Linked DNA regions of Homo sapiens: region 2 is linked to region 1. A link means that fine-mapping ties the variant in region 1 to the expression of a gene that starts in the linked region. Tissue or cell type: cerebellar hemisphere. Region 1 holds a variant in brackets; the other region holds the start of a gene. All regions are shown on one strand. Distances are between the middles of the regions.

What was found. PIP is the estimated chance that this variant, and not a neighbour inherited with it, causes the effect.
Region 2: CDC25B starts here. The variant in region 1 is the best candidate, but not a certain one, in a credible set for the expression of CDC25B in cerebellar hemisphere (GTEx, PIP 0.76).

Annotation. Positions count from the first base shown.
Region 1 is chr20:4,097,325-4,101,547 of GRCh38, reverse strand. No RefSeq gene overlaps it. Among named protein-coding and RNA genes, the nearest start is that of SMOX, 49 kb to the left of the region's middle. The variant T/C (reference allele first, on the strand shown) is at 2,210.
Region 2 is chr20:3,793,751-3,797,973 of GRCh38, reverse strand. It overlaps CDC25B (cell division cycle 25B), which reads right to left and starts at 1,664. Exons shown (of 16, transcript NM_021873.4): 1 at 1,243-1,664; 2 at 225-352. The coding sequence starts at 1,442. RefSeq lists silencers at 1,073-1,280, 1,347-1,526, 1,567-1,636 and enhancers at 1,867-2,026, 1,937-2,668.

The sequences.
Region 1 (4,223 bases):
CCAACAACCCAAATGAGCAAGAAATTGATTCTCTCCCAGAACCTCCAGAAAAGAACACAGCCTACCACGCCTTGGTTTTAGTCTGATGAGACCTGTATCGGACTTCTGACCTATAGCACCGTAAGATAACAAATTACTAATAAGTTTATGACAGCAGTAATAAAAAAACTATTACACTAGGTTAATTATTTATTCTAATTTAATATTAATAAATTAGTAACAATTATTAAAACTAATTTAACCAGTTTCTTTTTACATTTTTGGTTTTTTTTTTTTTTGAGACAGAGTTTCACTCTTGTTGCCCAGGCTGGAGTACAATGGCGCGATCTGGGCTCACCACAACCTCTGCCTCCCAGGTTCAAGTGATTCTCCTGCCTCAGCCTCCTGAGTAGTTGGGATTACAGGCATGCGCCACCACGCCCAGCTAATTTTGTATTTTTAGTAGAGACAGGGTTTCTCCATGTTGGTCAGGCTGGCCTTGAACACCTGACCTCAGGTGATCCACCCACCTCAGCCTCCCAAAGTGCTGAGATTACATGCGTGAGCCACCACACCTGGCCTTTACTTTTTTAATGTGACTACTAGAAAATTAAAAGTTACATACTGTATATGACTCACATTTGTGGTTCACTTTGTTTCTGTTAAACAGTGCTGATCACACACAGGCACATCACATATTTTTTAACCCATGACACTACATTGACTTTGTATATATAGAGAGAGACGAGGTCACTATGTTGATAAAGCTGGAGTGCAGTGGCACAACACAGAGAGAGACCTTGATTATAGCTTACTATAGCATCCAGCTCCTGGGTTCAAGCAATTCTTCCACCTCAGCCTCCCAAGCAGCTGGGACTACAGGCACCACTGCCTCTGGCTTGACATAGACTTTTTGAGGACAGCACACTAGTTGTCTTGCAGAATATTCCCCCTACTCTGGACTTGTCAGATTGCTTTATCATGGTGTCATTTAACTTACTCCTCTACCCTGTATATTCCCTGTAACCTGGAAGTTCATTTAAACAGTTTCATTAGATATGGGTTAAACATTTTTGGCAAGAATACAAAGGTGGCACTATGACGTCATGTTGTATGTATCACATCAGGAAGCTCATAATGTTTGGTTGTCTGACTATAAATGATGCAAGTTCGATTATTAGTTAAGGTCGTGTTGTGAGTTGAACTGTGTCCCCCCAAAAGATAAACTGAATTCCAAACCCCTGGTACCGGTGAATGTGACTTTATTTGAAAATAGTGGTTTTTGCAGATATAATCAAGCTAAGATGAAATCATACTGGATTAGGGTGGGCCTAATCCCATACTGTCCTTACAAGAGAGAAATTTGGACACCAAGACACAGAGACGTTCAGGGTGGATGCCAAGTGATGACAGAGGCAGAGGCTGGTGATGTGTCTATAAGGCCAAGAATGCCAAGCATCGCTGGCAACCACCAGAAGCCAAGAAAGAGGCATGGAACTGATTCTTCTTCAGAGCTCCCAGAAGGAACCAACCCTGCTGACACAATGATTCAGACCTCTGGCCTCCAGAACGGAGAGAATACTTTTCTATTGTTTTAATCCTATTGTTTATTCTATTGTTTAAATTATTGTAATAATTTGCTACAGCAGCCCCAGGAAATAAGTTCAGGTGGTGACATCAGATCTTTCTAACACAAAGGGAAGAAGGGCCGGGCACGGTGGCTCACACCTGTAATCCCAGCACTTTGGGAGGCTGAGGTGGGCGGATCACCTGAGGTCAGGAGTTCAAGACCAGCCTGACCAACATGGTGAAACCCCGTCTTTACTAAAAACACAAAAATTAGCCGGGTGTGGTGGCGCATGCCTGTAATCCCAGCTACTCGGGAGGCTGAGGCAGTAGAATCGCTTGAACCAGGGAGGCAGAGGTTGCAGTGAGCCGAGATCACGCGACTGCACTCCAGCCTGGGTGACAGAGCAAGACTCCATCTCAAAAAAATAAATAAATAAAAGGGAAGAGGTTTATAGTAATATTCCATTGTGGTTTAATTTGCATTTCCCTATGACTAGTAATGTTGAGCATTGAACATCTTTGTGTGAATTTATTTGCCATGTGTTTCTCTTCTTTGGTGAAGAATGTTTTCCCATTTTTGTTTAAGTTGTTGGTTTTCTTAATATTGAGTTTTAAAAGGTTTTTTAAAAAATATTCTAAACATACATCTTTTATCAGTTAT[T/C]TAACTTGCAAATATTCTTCTTCCAGTTTGTGGCTTGTCTTTTTGTTCTCTCAAAAGTGCCTTTCAAAGAACAGGAGTTATGGCTGGGTATGGTGGCTCACACCTGTAATCCTAGCACTTTGGGAGGCCGAGATGGGTCGATCGTTTGAGGTCAGGAGTTCTAGACCAGCCTGGCCAACATGGTGAAACCCCGTCTCTACTAAAAACACAAAAATTAGCTGGGCATGGTGGCAGGCGCTTATAATCCCAGCTACTTGCAAGGCGGAGGCTCGAGAATCACTTGGACCCGGTGGCAGAGTGAGACTCTGACTCAAAAAAAAGAGAACAGAAACAAGATCACAATATTTTCCCCTGTGTTTTATTTTTAAAGTTTTATAGTTTTAGGTCTATGATCGCTTTTGAGTTTATTTTTATATGGTGCCAAGTATAGATAAAAGGTTCATTTTTCTGTATATGGATAAACAAATGTTCATGCACTGTTTGTTAAAACAGAAACTACCCTTTCTCCAGTGAATTGCCTTTGCACCACTGTCAAAAATCAATCGGCCATATATGAGAAGGTCTATTTCTGTACTGTATTATGTTTCATTGTTCTGTTTTTCTTTCTTGATGCCAATTTCACACTGTCTTGATTAATGCCAGTTTCTAAGTCTTAAAGTCAAGTAGTGTAAATCCAACTTTATTCTTCTTTTACAAACTGGTTTTAGCTATTACAAGTCCTTTGCACTTCTATGTTAATTTTAGAATCAGCTTATACATTTCCACCAAAAAAGACTGCTGGGATTTTGATTGGAATTGCATTGAATCTACAGATCAATTTGGAAAGGAATGATACTTTGTAATATTGAGTCTTGCTATCCATGAACACATTATATCTCTCCTTTTATTTAGATCTTCTTTAATTTCTATCAGTAATTTTCATTGTGATATCTCATACATCTTTTGTCAGATTTAGCTCTTAAGTATTTTATGTATCTCATGCTGTTGTAAATGGTTTTGCTTCATTTCAATTTTCTATTATTCCTTGCTAGTATAAGGAAATAAATTGATGTTTGTGCCAGGCGTGGTGGCTCACACCTGTAATCCCAGCACTTTGGGAGGCCGAGGCGGGCAGATCATGAGGTCAGGAGATCAAGACCATCCTGGCTAACACAGTGAAACCCGGTCTCTACTAAAAATGCAAAAAATTATCCGGACATGGTGGCGGGCACCTGTAGTCCCAGCTACTCGGGAGGCTGAGGCAGGAGAATGGCGTGAACCTGGGAGGTAGAGCTTGCAGTGAGCCAAAATCCTGCCACTGCACTGCAGCCTGGGTGACAGAGCGAGACTCCATCTGAAAATAAATAAATAAATAAATAAATAAATAAATAAATAAATAAAATGAATTGATGTTTTTATTGTGATCTTGTATCTTACAATCTTGCTAAACCACTTATTAATTCTAGTAGCTTTTTGTAGATTTCATAAGATTTTCTAGGTAGAAATTTCATAAGATTTTCTAGACAATCAGATGACTTGATGACTTTATCATCTGCAAATAAAGATAGTCTTACTTCTTTCTATTCAATGTGAATGTCTTTTTTTTCTTACCTTTTTGCATGGGATACACCTCCAATACAATTTCAAGTAGAAATAATATAAGCACACGTTCTTGCCTTGCTCCTGAGCTGAGGGAGAATGCACCACTAAATATGACATTAGTTAAAGGTTCTTCATAGATGTATGCTCTTTATCAAGTTGAAGAATTTCCCCTCTCTTCCTGGTTTTCTGGGAGTATTACCAGAAATGGATTTGAAATTATGTCAAATGATTTTTCTACATCTATTGAAATGATCCTTTTTTTCTTTTTTAGTCTATTTATGTCGTGAACTACATTAATTATTCCAATGTTGGAGCAATGTTGCATTCCTGTGATAAATCCCATTTGGTCATGATATATTACTCTTTTTTTCTCCGCCTCCCGGGTTCATGCCATTCTCCTGCCTCAGCCTCCCAAGTAGCTGGGACTACAGGT
Region 2 (4,223 bases), 300 kb after region 1:
GGGCCCCACCCTCTCATCCACTCAGCCAGTCCGCGTTGGGTGTGGTGAGCCCCACAAGAGGTGTGTCTTCCTCCCATTTCTGTGGAGGGTGGGGGAGAGGCTCCTGGGCCCACCAGGTTGTGGGGAGGATGTTAGTTTGATCGGCAGGGAAATTGGGAGGCCCAGGCAGCCCCCACAAACTCTCCTGACACAGGCAGATCTCCCCAGGCTCCCCTGGGCCTCACCTGCATCAGAAGATTCGGAGGATTCAGACGACAGGGAGGATTCGGATGCCCGTCGAGACAGGGATAGGTGCGTCAGGCGGCTGCGGCTGCGGAAGAGCAGGGTCCCTACCTGACTCTTTGGGGTTTCGCTGGGAAGGGAACAGGGACCCGGGAAAGGAGAAAGGTAAACGTGGGGCTCAAGGCCTGGCTAGCCCACGTTCCCACTCCCTTGCTGAGAAAAGAACTGAGCGAAACACTACACCGGGAAAGCAATGGCCCTGAGGGCCCCCTCTTCTCAGGTCAAGGAAGGTTCATTCTACAGAGGCCCTAAAGCGTCTTCTCTTCGTTGACTGGTTTAGGAAAGGTCCTCTCAGGAGCAGGGCAAGGTGAGCCCAGGGTGTGAGCAAGGCTGCCTGGCTGGAGGCCAGCCTAAGGGTTGGTGGTCTAGCAGAGCCGCCCCAGAGAGCCTTCCCCTAAACTGTCAGACCCCCACCTTTCCAGGACCCTTCCTGAAGGATGGACCAAGACCAGGTTCTCCTACTGGAACAACCCAGCTCTCCCCTTGCAGACTTAGGGAGCAGGATCAGTGTTTAATTAATTGTCTTAATTCTGGGGGCAGAACTGGGGTGGAGGGAGCAGGGGCATGGATGTGTGAGTGCTCCACGGCTCTGCCACCCTTAAGTTCCCTCTCCAGGCTTGAGATTCCCATCCTGGGGCAAAATGGTGGCTATCCGGGCAGAGATTACGGAGGCAGCGTGGTGGAGGCACAATGAGGGAGGAGGGAGTGAGGGGAAAGAAGATTTGGAGAGGCTTGTGCAGACTGAGAGCAGGTCACCTGGAGGTGTGGGGGGCACAGCCCAGGTCTCACTTCCCATGTCCTGGGCCCCTAGGAGGGAACAAGGGCGTACCTCTCCACTGCTCAGGATGCCTCCCCGGACTCCACCTCCTGGATTCGACTACCATGCCCAGTTCTCCAGGAGGCCCAGGACTCCAGACCTAGCCTCTCACCCCCATATGCAGCCTCCTTGGGGTGTCCTACCTGCCGAGCCCGGCGAGGTCGTGCATGGTCTGGGTGAGGGTGGTGACCGGCGAGGAAGCGGCCGCCCGCACCGGGGACCCCAGGAGGCCATGAGATCCCAGCAGGAGGCCCGGGAGGTGGCCCGGACGCTGGGCGCCACCGCACACGCCTGCTGGACTGAGAGCCGAGCCTGGCGCGGGCTCCGGCTGGGGCACCTCCATCGCGGCGGGGCCGGCAGAAGGCTGGCTGGAGGGCCGGGCGCAGGGCAGCCAACAAACGCCGGCACAGCTGGCTGGGCCGAGGGAGGCAGCGGGCGAGGGGTGGGGGGGGGGGGAAGGAGGGAGGGAGGAAGAGCCACAGGGCCAGGCGCGAGGGAGGAGAGGGATGCGGGGAGGGCGGGGGGCGAGGGACGCCGGGCTCAGGCACCAGCCAGGGAAGCCTCTAGTTGCAGCTGCCACTTCCACCTCCTTATATATTCGAAAAATAACAGCAGCCGCGCCGCCGGACGCCACCAATGGGGTAGCGGGTTAGATGAGGGCGGGACTGAGGGCGGGGCCCGCAGGGCAAGAGGCGCGGAGGCTGGATTTCCAGGCTTTGGGTGGGCCGGAGGAATTAAGATTTATCCCACACCCTCGCACATCCCCCTGGCGCGAGGATCCCGGCCTCCCAAAATCCGCCTCTCGCGACATGGTTTGGAGCTCCACACTCCCAAAGGCAGCAGCAACGCCCTAGGGTGGCCTCCGCAGGACCCCCCGCGGCATGTCGTCACCTGGGATCACCGCTAGGGATGGGGAGAGGCTCCAACTGGCTCCCGGAAGTTTGCTAAACCCAGCTGGGCTGTACGGTCTGCGTTAGACACCCCATTTTACAGACCTGGACGCTGAGGCGTGAAGTTCATTAACTCAATCAAGGTCACGCGGTTGGGCAGGCGGTGGGCCAGGATTCGCTCGCTCCAGGCGCCTCTGACCGCGCAGCCTCCCCGCCTCCGCGACTGGCTGCGCTGAGCAGCAGCAAAACGTCATTCGCAGGAGAAGCGCCCAGCGTAGGAGGTGGGAGGGCAGTGGGGCCCCCAAGCGGAACTGATGGGCTCTTTCGCGGGACCCCAGGTTAGATGTTACCCCAACCGGCCCAATTTTCGCGGCAGCCCCAGGAGAGGCTCTAAACGGTGGAACTAGGAATGGATTTCCGCGGCTGGGGGTCGAGGAGGGTGTCAGCAACCAGAGAGGCGAATTAAGTATCACGCCCATTGATGATTTGGCTAACTTGGTGCCAATGGCACCATATTATTTAATTGGTGTTTCTTTGATGACCAGACCAGGGAGGCTGAATTTGTCATTCGTTTTAAGCGGAGCAGCTTCCAATTATCTTTCTTTTTGTTTTGTTTTGTTTTTTTTGGGATGGAGTCTCCCTCTGTCAACCCGGCTGGAGTGCAGTGGCCATCTCTGCTCACTACAACCTCCGCCACCCGGGTTCCAGCGATTCTTCTGCCTCAGCCTCCCGAGTAGCTGAGACTACAGGAGCGCGCCACCACGCCCAGCTAATGTTTGTATTTTTAGTAGAGACGGGGGTTTCACCATATTGGCCAGGCTGGTCTCGAACTCCTGACCTCGTGATCCACCCACCTAGGCCTCCCAAAGTGCTGGGATTACACGCACGAGCCACTGTGCCCGGCCCATCTTCCAATTATCTAAATGCCTTCCAGCCCCGCTCGTTTTCCAGGCCTCCTGGAACAAGAGGCCTGAAGGCTGCACCCAAAAGCCGGTGGGTAGTGAGCAGCTTTCGCATCCTGTCTCCCCAGGTTAGAAGTGGCCTCTGGCTGGGCGGGTGGTGGTGCGGGGGGCGGGCTGCAGCTCAGCAAGGCAGGAGTACCCCTTCTCGTGCAGTCCCAGCCACCCAGACCCAAGGTGCATTGGATGGGGGTGGCAAAAGGGAGGGCCTGGTGATGGGGGGCTGGGTGGGCCAATGCATCTGAAGGGTAGGGGAAGACCCCAGCCCCACCTGAGAGGGGTGGCCAAGGTGGGAACGTGACCTTTCCTTTTCTCCAAATTTTGCCCAGCTCCTGTGCTGTGCAGAGGGCTCTGCAAGACTGAATTTCCGGTTCATCCTCCCTGGGTCAGGGGTTATGCCCTGGACCTCCAGCCACTACTTCCAGTGAGGATGTGACTGCCCTTAGTGCCAGGAGGGAAGGGGGAAGTGTCCTTGTAAAGCCACCCAGCCCAAAAACCAGAAAAAAAAAACTGCCCCGAGATTTGCATTTTCAAAATAAACACAACAGGTATCCCCCCCACCCCCCACCCAGCCAATATACATCTGCACAGGGTGTATGTGGCAGGGCAGGCATTATACTATTGAATCCCTTGAAATCCCACAGTCAAAAAACACATGAAAAAATGCTCATCATCACTGGCCATCAGAGAAATGCAAATCAAAACCACAATGAGATACCATCTCACACCAGTTAGAATGGCAATCATTAAAAAGTCAGGAAACAACAGGTGCTGGAGAGGATGTGGAGAAATAGGAACACTTTTACACCGCTGGTGGGACTGTAAACTAGTTCAACCCTTGTGGAAGTCAGTGTGGCGATTCCTCAGGGATCTAGAACTAGAAATACCATTTGACCCAGCCATCCCATTACTGGGTATATACCCAAAGGATTATAAATCATGCTGCTATAAAGACACATGCACATGTATGTTTATTGCGGCACTATTCACAATAGCAAAGACTTGGAACCAACCCAAATGTCCAACAATGATAGACTGGATTAAGAAAATGTGGCACATATACACCATGGAATACTATGCAGCCATAAAAAATGATGAGTTCATGTCCTTTGTAGGGACATGGATGAAATTGGAAATAATCATTCTCAGTAAACTATCGCAAGAACAAAAAACCAAACACCGCATATTCTACTCATAGGTGGGAATTGAACAATGAGAACACATGGACACAGGAAGGGGAACATCACACTCTGGGGACTGTTGTGGGGTGGGGGG